3 linked regions of the Homo sapiens genome follow. The protein of the gene in region 1 purifies or fractionates together with the protein of each later gene. This does not show direct contact. Each region holds a gene or a part of one and is shown in the gene's direction. Other genes may lie near its edges. The genes, in order: LONP1, ZNF3 and ROCK1.

Evidence for each region.
Region 2: the proteins of LONP1 (region 1) and ZNF3 purify together in Homo sapiens (co-immunoprecipitation; one large-scale study listed by IntAct). This does not show direct contact.
Region 3: the proteins of LONP1 (region 1) and ROCK1 fractionate together in Homo sapiens (co-fractionation; one large-scale study listed by BioGRID). This does not show direct contact.

The regions. Positions count from the first base shown.
Region 1 is NC_000019.10:5,703,054-5,706,702, reverse strand, and holds part of LONP1 (lon protease homolog, mitochondrial isoform 1 precursor), read left to right. Parts: intron 1-710; coding exon 711-931; intron 932-2,484; coding exon of another isoform or gene 2,485-2,587; exon of another isoform or gene 2,588-2,972; intron 2,973-3,649. UniProt on the Homo sapiens protein: ATP-dependent serine protease that mediates the selective degradation of misfolded, unassembled or oxidatively damaged polypeptides as well as certain short-lived regulatory proteins in the mitochondrial matrix.
Region 2 is NC_000007.14:100,075,146-100,078,794, reverse strand, and holds part of ZNF3 (zinc finger protein 3), read left to right. Parts: intron 1-1,361; 5' UTR 1,362-1,437; coding exon 1,438-1,492; exon of another isoform or gene 1,493-1,566; intron 1,567-1,572; exon of another isoform or gene 1,573-2,517; intron 2,518-3,164; coding exon 3,165-3,253; exon of another isoform or gene 3,254-3,368; coding exon of another isoform or gene 3,369-3,533; coding exon 3,534-3,649. UniProt on the Homo sapiens protein: Involved in cell differentiation and/or proliferation.
Region 3 is NC_000018.10:20,947,793-20,951,441, reverse strand, and holds part of ROCK1 (rho-associated protein kinase 1), read left to right. Parts: intron 1-54; coding exon 55-58; 3' UTR 59-3,649. UniProt on the Homo sapiens protein: Protein kinase which is a key regulator of the actin cytoskeleton and cell polarity.

The DNA.
Region 1 (3,649 bases):
GCCATTGAGGCTCGCTGTCATGATTTTCGGCAGATCACAGCCTGCCTGATGGCCGGTCACCTCACGGTCGTAGCATTTTTCAGAATTTTTTACTTTAAGACAGGGTCTCAGTCGGCCACCTAGGCTGGAGTGCAATGGCGCAATCTCAGCTCACTACAGCCTCCACCTCCAGGGCTCAAGTGATCCTCCCACCTCAGCCTCCCGAGTAGCTGGGATTACAGGCGTGCAATACCACACCGGCTAATTTTTGTATTTTAGTAGAGACAGGGTTTCACCATGTTGGCCAGGCTGGTCTTGAACTCCTGGCCTCAAGTGATCCGCCCGCTTCAGCCTCCCAAAGTGCTAGGATTACAGGCGTGAGCCACCGCGCCTGGCCCCATCTCTACAAAAAATTTTAAAATTAGAGCCAGGTGTGGCAGGTGCCTGTGGTCCCAGTTACTCAGGAGGCTAAGGCAGGAGGATCGCTTGAGCCCAGGAGGTGGAGGCTACGGTGAGCTATGATGGTGCCTTTGCACTCCAGCCTGGGTAACACAGGTAGACCCTGTCTCAAAAACAAAAGAAGATGGAAGGAACCAAAGGCTTCGTGCTCTGGGTTTCGTTTCTTTTCTCTCTGAGTCCTGGGGGAGCAGAGGGTCCCCCTTCGTCTGGGGACGCACCCACCCACCCAGCTTCCCGGAGCCAGGGCCTGATGGCAGCACCTCACCCCACAGGTGGAGGAGAAGATCAAGCAGACCCACCGTAAGTACCTGCTGCAGGAGCAGCTAAAGATCATCAAGAAGGAGCTGGGCCTGGAGAAGGACGACAAGGATGCCATCGAGGAGAAGTTCCGGGAGCGCCTGAAGGAGCTCGTGGTCCCCAAGCACGTCATGGATGTTGTGGACGAGGAGCTGAGCAAGCTGGGCCTGCTGGACAACCACTCCTCGGAGTTCAAGTGAGTGCCAGGCCCGGGGCGGCCCAGCCCTCAGGTGACCCCTCCTCAGCCCCCATCTTAGGCAGGCCAGGGGACCCAGCGGGGAGCCCCGTGGCACCTTCTTGGTGTGGCAGGTGCGGGCTGGGAGGCATCCAGCGAGTATCAGCCCTGTTCTGGGCAGGACACATCATCACCATCTCCATTCTACAAGGAAATCGAGGCTCGGGGCTGTTGAGCTGGTGGCCAGGGCCTGTGAATTGGCAGGTGGTGCCACGGATTTGAGCCCAGGGACGCCTGGCTCTAAGCCAGGGCTGCTTTTTTTTTTTTTTTTTTTTGAAATGGAGTCTCGCTCAGTTGTCCAGACTGGAGTGCAGTGGCACAATCTTGGCTCACTGCAACTTCCGCTTTGCGGGTTCAAGCAATTCTCCTGCTTCAGTCCCCCAAGTATCTGGGACTATAGGCATGCACCACCACGCCTGGTTAATTTTTTGTATTTTTAGGAGACATGGGGTTTCACCATGTTGTTCAGGCTGGTCTCGAACTCCTGACCTCAAATGATCCGGCTGCCTTGACCTGCCAAAGTGCTAGGATTACAGGCGCGAGCCACCATGCCTGGCTTTTTTTTTTTTTTAAGACAGAGTCTTGCTCTGTTGTCCAGGCTGGAGTACAGTGGTGCAATGTTGGTTCACTGCAACCTCCACCTCCCAGGTTGAAACGATTCTACTGCCTCAACTTCCTGAGTAGCTGGGATTACAGGCATGTGCCACCACACCCAGCTAATTTTTAGTATTTTTAGTAGAGATGGGGTTTTGCCATGTTGGCCAGGTTGGTCTCAAACTCCTGACCTCAAGGGATCCGCCCACCTTGCCCTCCCAAAGTGCTGGGATTACAGGCATGAGCCACCACGCCTGGCCTAAGCCAGGCCTTCTCGCCAGGACCAGGAGTCCCCATGGCTGTCTTTGCAAGGCTACCCCTGGCTTCTGTTGCCCCTTCGAGAGTCAGCCAGGAAGTGACCATGCCTTCCCGCAGCACTGGCCTTGCCCGGGGGCCACTGTCCTGAGCATGCCATGAGTCAGGGTGGCCGCCCCAGGTTTGAGGGCCTCAGGTACCTCTGAGATCCTTTCAGCCATGCCCATGTCCAGCCAGGACAGAACCCACCTGGCCACTTCCCATGCAGCATGCTCTGTTTTCAGCCCAGGAACCAGTTGTCACGCCAGGGCAGCTTCTAGGCAGAAGTCCCCGGGGCAGGGCTGGGCAGGCCGTAGGACAGCGCTTAGAGGGAAGGCATGAGTTTCTTTCCTGGCTGCTGGCCCAGGACCCCGCCTCAGATTTGAATGTCACGGTCGCCGGAGTCTCTCCCCCAGGGCCCTGAGAGGCACTGGTTGCGCGCGAAGGCTGTGGCTTCCCCTCCCAGCACGCCCCGATTTCGGTGAGTGGCCTGTGAGCTCCCATGGCTGCTCCGACGGTGCCACAACTTAGTGCCTTACACAATGCCGAGCCCTGAGATCCCGCTGTGGGCCGGGCCCGTCCCTCCCAGAGGCTCCAGAGGAGAATCCGTTTCCTGCCTTTCCCAGTATCTGGAGGCGCCCGCATCCCTCGGCTCGGGGCCCCTTCCTCCTTCACAGCCACAGCGCAGCCTCTTCCAGTCAGTCTCTCACCTCCCACCGCCTGTCGTGAGGACCTGGTGAGGAACCTGGGCCCCCTGGGTCACCCAGAATGCTCTCCTGTCTCGGGGACCTTCACTCAGCCCCATCTGCAGTTCCCTGCTGCCATGTGAGAGGCCTGTGCCGCCGCCTCCTGTGGGGGGAGAACGTAGATGTTTTCGGGGTTCTTCTGTCTCCCAGCGAGTGCCTCAGCTGCCCTTGGGCTGGTGGAAGTACCTGCTCAGACCGGGCCTTGTCCTGCAGAAGCAGATAGCTCCTTCCCCCAGGAGCTGAGGGGGTCTGTAAGGCGGGTTCTGTCCTCAGGTCCTGGGAAGTCACGGGGGACAAGCCCTCAGTACCTGCGTGTCACCAAGATGCCTGCAGCAGGCTGCCAGCTACCTCTCCCACCCAGAATGCTCTCCGCAAAGTGTCACTGCCTGTGTCACTTCCACAGTGACTTCATGTGTCTCTAAACTCCAGCATCCGTGTGGCCCAGCTGGCCTGTCCCGGTGCGTCTCGTATGCCCGTTGGGTGGCAGTGCGCCCTGACGGTGTCTGCTCGTGGGGCCGCCTGGCCCTTCCTCGGAAGCCGTCCTCCTCTTCATCCTCTTCCCCAATCCTGCCGTGTGCTCTTGCAGCCCTCACTGACTTGCTCCTGGCCCATAGTGGCCGCTGCTCACTGCTGCACGGCTCCCAACTTGGGGACCAATATGGAGTTGCCCTCCCAACCTTCAGCGTCACTCTCCCGGCAGGGGACCTGGCCTCCATTTCCCCACCTGCCCTGGGTCAGGCCTTGTCCCATTTTCTAAGCCTCGTCCCCTCTGTGGTTCTGCTCACTCAGCCCTGGGCAGAAGCCAGTGCCGTCTTGGCTCTCCTGATGAGTCAGCAGTGGACCTCCGGCCATCTCCTCCTTCCTGCACTGGGTGCTTTGGACAGGGCAGTTTGTAAATTTTTTTTTTTTTTTTTTTTTGAGATGGAGTCTCACTCTGTTGCCCAGGCTGGAGTGCAGTGGCACGATCTCGGCTCACTGCAAGCTCCGCCTCTCGGGTTCATGCCATTCTCCTGCCTCAGCCTCCCGAGTAGCTGGAACTACAGGT
Region 2 (3,649 bases), on another chromosome or scaffold:
AGTTAGCCCTCAGCAAACATTTGCTATGTGAGCAAATGAGTAAAGAGATAATGAGAGGTAGATCAAATCCAGGGTTGGTTGGTTTGTTTTGTTTTGTTTTGTTTTGTTTGAGACAGAGTCTCACTGTTGCCCAGGCTGGAGTACAATGGTGCGATCTTGGGTCACTGCCACCTCTGCCTCCCGGGTTCAAGCGATTCTCCTGCCTCAGCCTCCCAAGTAGCTGGGATTACAGGCGCATGTAACACCATGCCCAGCTAATTTTTGTATTTTTTCTTTTCTTTTTCTTTTTTTTTTTTTTTGAGGCAGAGTCTCTGTCTATTGCCCAGACTGGAGTGCAGTGGCGTGATCTCGGCTCACTGCAACCTCCACCTCCTGGGATCAAGTGATTCTCCTGCTTCAGCTTCCTGAGTAGCTGGGATTACAGGCACACACCACCATGCCCAGCTAATTTTTTGTATTTTTAGTAGAGATGGGGTTTCATCATCCTGGCCAGGCTGGTCTCGAACTCCTGACCTCGTGATTTGCCTGCCTCAGCCTCCCAAAGTGCTGGGATTACAGGCATGAGCCACCGTGCCCAGCCTGGGAGTAGTCTTTTTATGCCAGTGAATGTATATACCCGCTCCTGCATTTTGTTATAAATATTACTCAAAGTGATGGGGGCAGCCAAAGGCGGGATATTGTTGAGGAACTTGGGCCCTTTTTGTGGTCCTTGTGATAGTCTCATTTCAGGGAGTATATTTACCAGGATCTAAAAGACTAGTCTGAGGCTGGGCATGGTGGCTCACACCTGTAATCCTAGCACTTGGGGAGGCTGGGGTGGGCGGATCACCTGAGATCAGGAGTTTGAGACCAGCCTGGCTGACATGGTGAAATCCCACCTCTACTAAAAATACAAAAATTAGCCAGGCATGGTGGTGCGTGCCTGTAATCCCAGCTACTTGGGAGGCTAAGGCAGGAGAATCGCTTGAACCCGGGAGGCAGAGGTGGCAGTGAGATGAGATTGCGCCATTGCACTCCAGCCTGGGTGACAAGAGTGAAATTCCGTCTTAAAAAAAATAAAGAAAATTTAAAAATACCGGGCGCGGTGGCTCACGCCTGTAATCCCAGCTCTCAGGGAGGCAACAGGTGGGAGGATAGCTTGAGCCCAGGAGTTCCAGACCTGCCTGGGCAATATAGCGAGACCCTGTTCTCCACAAAAAGGAAAAAAAAAATTAAAAAATAAAAGAAAATAAAAGACTAGTCCCAGTTGCCACATTTCTTCTCACTGTTCCTGGGTACTCACTGAAATACTAGCTCCCATCTTTCTGTATTCAGGAGGTTTTTTTGAATTATCTTTGAACCTTGAACTTTTGCTTCTGCAGTGCTTCCTCATTCTCTTTTAAAACCCGCTTCCCGCTGAGTCTGCACCCAGGAGACCAGAGAGCACCTTGCCCTTCCATGGAAACTCAGGCTGATCTCGTATCTCAGGAACCTCAGGCCCTGCTTGACAGTGGTGAGGAATAAGGACTCATTCATTCTTTTACTCAGTCATTCTGCAATCATCCATTGAAATCGCTCACTTACCAGGTACTAGGCTAACTACTAGAATCCAGATGTGAATAAGACACACTCTTCGCCATTCAGTAACTCACAGCCTAGTGGGGAAGCTGACCGAACAGTAATCAATGACAGCTTGATAGGTTTGATAATTGAGGCAGATTGTTTTGTTTTGTTTTGTTTTTTTTGAGATGGAGTCTTGCTCTGTTGCTCAGGCTAGAGTGCAGTGGCACAATCTCGGCTCACTGCAACCTCCGCCTCCTGGGTTCAAGTGATTCTCCTGCCTCAGCCTCCCATGTAGCTGGGACTGCAGGCGCCCGTCACCATGCCCGGCTAATTTTTGTAGAGACGGGGTTTTGCCATGTTGGTCAGGCTGGTCTTAAACTCCTGACCTCAGTGCCCACCTTGGCCTCCCAAAGTGTTGAAATTACAGGCATGACCCACCGCGCCTGGCCACTGAGGCAGTTTTGAGGGGTTGTGAGTACCTCACGCGAGATTAATGAAACCGTGTCAATCATTCCATTTCTCGGGCATTCTATGCAGCCGACTTCATAGGCATAGTTTGTGCTTTTTAGGAGCATGCTTTTAGAGGAGGCGCTTCGGAATCATTTTATGGGTCATAGACAAAAAGACAGAGTGAATAGGAAGCCACTAAAGTATACTTTGCGGCCGAGCGCGGTGGCTCACTTCTGTAATCCCAGCACTTAGGGAGGCTGAGGCGGGCAGATCACAAGGTCAGGAAATTGAGACCATCTTGGCCAACACAGTGAAACCGCATCTCTACTAAAAATACAAAAAATTAGCCGGGCATGGTGGCACGCACCTGTAGTCCCAGCTCCTCCAGAGGCTGAGGCAGGAGAATTGCTTGAACCCGGGAGGTGGAGGTTGCAGTGAGCCGAGATCACGCCACTGCACTCCAGCCTGGGTGACAGAGTGAGACGCCACCTCAAAAAGAAAAAAAAAAAAGAATTGCAGAAAAAGGTAAGAGATTCAACACAGAAACAGGGAACATTTTTAGTGTACAGATTTGATCTGGGGTGGAGAGAAAGGAGCTGTGGGCATTGTGTTTCCAGTCAGGGCTGGGGTGAAGCTGCTGGTTTTTCTCTGGTCTAAGAACTTCATGCTGGGTGCAGTGGCACACGACTGTAATCCCAGCTATTTGGGAGGCTGAGGCAGGAGGATCACTTGAGCCCAGGAGTTTGAGACCAGCCTGGGCAACATAGCAAAACCCACCTCAAAAAAAAAAAAAATAGAACTTCATGCAAGAGCGGGATCATATGTTTCTGGCCAAGCTTGGGTGAATGGACAAGAATGCAGTAATCACTAAGATAGGACTGGGCGGTTTCATTGAGAGAAGAGTGACTGGAGAGAAGAGGGGACCTGGGACAGACTGGAGACTAAGAATGACCAGGCCTGTGGCCATCTGCTCAGGCAGGATGGACTCGCTCTGAGTTTGCCTTTGTTGGACACACTGTAGCTAGCTGCAGAGGAAGCAAACTTAGAAATGTGAGAGAGAGGGTCCTGTGTTGTCCCAGGACCCCGGGAGCTTTCTGTGGGTTGGGAAGTCAGCAGGTTGGGAGGTCACAGAGCAGATGGACTCATTCCTGGGCCCTTTTATTGCCCTTCAGCTCTTCCTTCAAAAGTTCCTGCCTTTTCCGACAAGGACAGCCTGGGGGATGAGATGTTGGCGGCTGCGCTCCTAAAGGCCAAGTCCCAGGTGAGCTGTGGTTCCGTTTATCCTTTTCCTTTCCATTTTCTGTGCAATGACATCCCATTCAGAGCTTTAAACCCTGATCTCCTCCATCAGGCCCATGGTTCTGTCCTGCTGAATCATGGACCCTCACCTTCTATCTTGGACTCCTGTCTCTCTTCCTCCACCCTGTCCTCCCTTCCTCCCTTCCCAAATGTGCATTTTTCACCCCATCCTCAGTGATTTTTTTGGTGCCGCCATTCACATTCCTCACCCTGAAATTGCATGCCAGCACGTGTTGTTTCAGGAGCTGGTAACCTTTGAGGATGTAGCTGTGTACTTCATCCGGAAGGAGTGGAAGCGTTTGGAACCTGCTCAGAGGGACCTCTATAGAGATGTGATGCTGGAGAATTACGGGAATGT
Region 3 (3,649 bases), on another chromosome or scaffold:
TATTTTTAAACTGAGTGCATTTCTTAAATTAGTTTTTTCCCCCTCCCTCAACAGTTAACCATGTGACTGAGTGCCCTGTGGAATCGTGTGGGATGCTACCTGATAAACCAGGCTTCTTTAACCATGCAGAGCAGACAGGCTGTTTCTTTGACACAAATATCACAGGCTTCAGGGTTAAGATTGCTGTTTTTCTGTCCTTGCTTTGGCACAACACACTGAGGGTTTTTTTTATTGCGGGTTTGCCTACAGGTAGATTAGATTAATTATTACTATGTAATGCAAGTACAGTTGGGGGAAAGCTTAGGTAGATATATTTTTTTTAAAAGGTGCTGCCTTTTTGGATTTATAAGAAAATGCCTGTCAGTCGTGATAGAACAGAGTTTTCCTCATATGAGTAAGAGGAAGGGACTTTCACTTTCAAGTGGAACAGCCATCACTATCAAGATCAGCTCATGGAAGGAGTAAAGAAAATATCTCAAAATGAGACAAACTGAAGTTTTGTTTTTTTTTTAATGACTTAAGTTTTTGTGCTCTTGCAAGACTATACAAAACTATTTTAAGAAAGCAGTGATATCACTTGAACTTCAGTGCCCTCACTGTAGAATTTAAAAGCCTTACTGTTGATTGCCCATGTTGGACTTGATGGAGAAATTAAATATCTTTCATTATGCTTTACAAAATACTGTATATGTTTCAGCAAGTTTGGGGAATGGGAGAGGACAAAAAAAAGTTACATTTAATCTATGCATTTTTGCCAAGCCATATTGAGTTATTTTACTACTAGAGACATTAGGAAACTAACTGTACAAAAGAACCAAGTTTAAAAGCATTTTGTGGGGTACATCATTTCTATAATTGTATAATGTATTTCTTTGTGGTTTTAAATGATAAAGACATTAAGTTAACAAACATATAAGAAATGTATGCACTGTTTGAAATGTAAATTATTCTTAGAACACTTTCAATGGGGGTTGCATTGTCCTTTTAGTGCCTTAATTTGAGATAATTATTTTACTGCCATGAGTAAGTATAGAAATTTCAAAAAATGTATTTTCAAAAAATTATGTGTGTCAGTGAGTTTTTCATTGATAATTGGTTTAATTTAAAATATTTAGAGGTTTGTTGGACTTTCATAAATTGAGTACAATCTTTGCATCAAACTACCTGCTACAATAATGACTTTATAAAACTGCAAAAAATGTAGAAGGTTGCACCAACATAAAAAGGAAATATGGCAATACATCCATGATGTTTTCCAGTTAACATAGGAATTACCAGATAAATACTGTTAAACTCTTGTCCAGTAACAAGAGTTGATTCATATGGACAGTATGATTTATTGTTTATTTTTTTAACCAAATACCTCCTCAGTAATTTATAATGGCTTTGCAGTAATGTGTATCAGATAAGAAGCACTGGAAAACCGATCGTCTCTAGGATGATATGCATGTTTCAAGTGGTATTGAAAGCCGCACTGATGGATATGTAATAATAAACATATCTGTTATTAATATACTAATGACTCTGTGCTCATTTAATGAGAAATAAAAGTAATTTATGGATGGGTATCTTTAATTTTTACTGCAATGTGTTTTCTCATGGCTGAAATGAATGGAAAACATACTTCAAATTAGTCTCTGATTGTATATAAATGTTTGTGAAATTCCATGGTTAGATTAAAGTGTATTTTTAAAAGATAAAACGTGGTCTTGGGCTCTAAAACAAGAGTGGGAATAGTTCACATGAAAAGCTGGCTAAAGTGTGTTGGAAAACAATTCTCCATGGGTCTCTTGCATTTCTACACATCAGGGAAGCAGAGGCTCTGACAACCTTTCTTTTGACTATCTTTTCCAAGGATATTTATGTAGTAAACAGCCTTGGAAGATAGAGTTCTCCCTTGTGAGGATGTCGGGTTCTTTTACTGTCCAGTATAATAAAGATAACGTCTCCCACCTATGATGCAAACCCACTGTGTGCTCAGCACCCACCTGGGCCACTCTGCATTGCCCACATGGGGCTTGGAGGGCAAAGGGAACTGATGGAACGTGAAACTTATGCTGCTTTTGCTGTGCTGTGAATGAAGTCATCTGACTCTGACCCAGGGGTCTCATCTCTTTTGTCAGGATCCATGAAACTGTGACTGGCAGCATGCAAACAGGATAAAATCTCAGCACAGTTCCTGACGGTGTCCTTACTACCTTCTCAGACTCATCACCATTACCTAATATTTTAAGGTCCAGTTGCAGAGAACAGAGTTAATTCTAATTAGTTTAAGCAAGAGAAGACTTTCCAAATGACATACTAATCTGAACTTAGAATTGTTGAGAACTGAGAGAGCTTTGAGGAATCACTCCCAATGCCACATTACAGAACTGGGTCAACCAGGAGAGCTGCTTCCTCTTCTAAGTTCAGGAAACCACTCACTCCCAAGTATACCAATATTGAGAGGGTCCAGATAGTGCCATAATCAGGAATCCACACTACCACTGCTGGTTCTCTGCAACACTTGTCAGGCTTGCTACAATCTACCTCCAGTTAGATGTTTTGTACCATTCCTCTTGCCACTTAAGAACCTCATGTCTGCACACTGCCTCAGAAAAGGCACTTCCATGACCCTGCTTGCTGGCATTTAGCACAGCCTGCATCTCACGTCTGCCTTCTCTAGGTGCATCTACGTGGCCAAAATTAAATCACATCCAGACCCCTAGCTGCAAGAAAGTCTGAGAAATATAGCCTCTAGCTTTCTCTCTAATTTGTTACAGGAGGACACACTAGGAGTGTGGAATGAAGGTTCAGCATTGAGTTAGCCCATGCACCCACACCTGTAAGCTTCTCTGAGATCAGGAACTCCAGCTTTGGGCAACAAAGAAAACATAGCCACTGTCATTATTCACAGGTTCACTCATGACCTGTCATTTGGGGTTTCAGCTTAAATTAACCCATTCACCCTTCATTTAAAGTAAAAAAAATAAGTAAAAGAACTTAAATGACAAACTCATAGTTACTTGAGTTTGTAATTCATAGTTAACTTTCACAGTTCTATAATCAATCTGGAATTCAGAGTGAGGTAGAGATCAAGCAGTATTTCTCCCATATGGATATTCAGTTGATACTGCAGTATTCATTGAAAATACTTCTTTCCTGCATCGTAATTCAGGTGAACAATCCATTGGTGTTATTTCTGTGTCCTTGCCAATATCACACTTTTAATTACTGTAACTTTATAATAAGATTTTATATCTGTAGTAGAAGTCCAACTTTGTAATCCCTCCCAATTGGCTTGGCTATTCTTGGCCTTTTGCATTTCCATATAATTTTTTATTTTTGTTTTGAAACGAAGTTTCGCTCTTGTTGCCCAGGCTGGAGTGCAGTGGCGCGATCTCGGCTCACTGCAACCTCCGCCTCCCAGGTTCAAGTGATCCTCCTGCCTCAGACTCCCGAGTAGCTGGGATTACAGGTGCCCACCACCATGCCCAGCTAATTTTTGTATTTTTAGTAGAGACAGGGTTTCACCATGTTGGCCAGCCTGGTCTTGAACTCCTGACCTCAGGTGATCCACACCCACCTTGGCCTCCCAAAGTGCTGGGATTACAGGCATGAGCCACCGCGCCTGGTTGCATTCCCATATAAATTTAAAAACAATCTACTG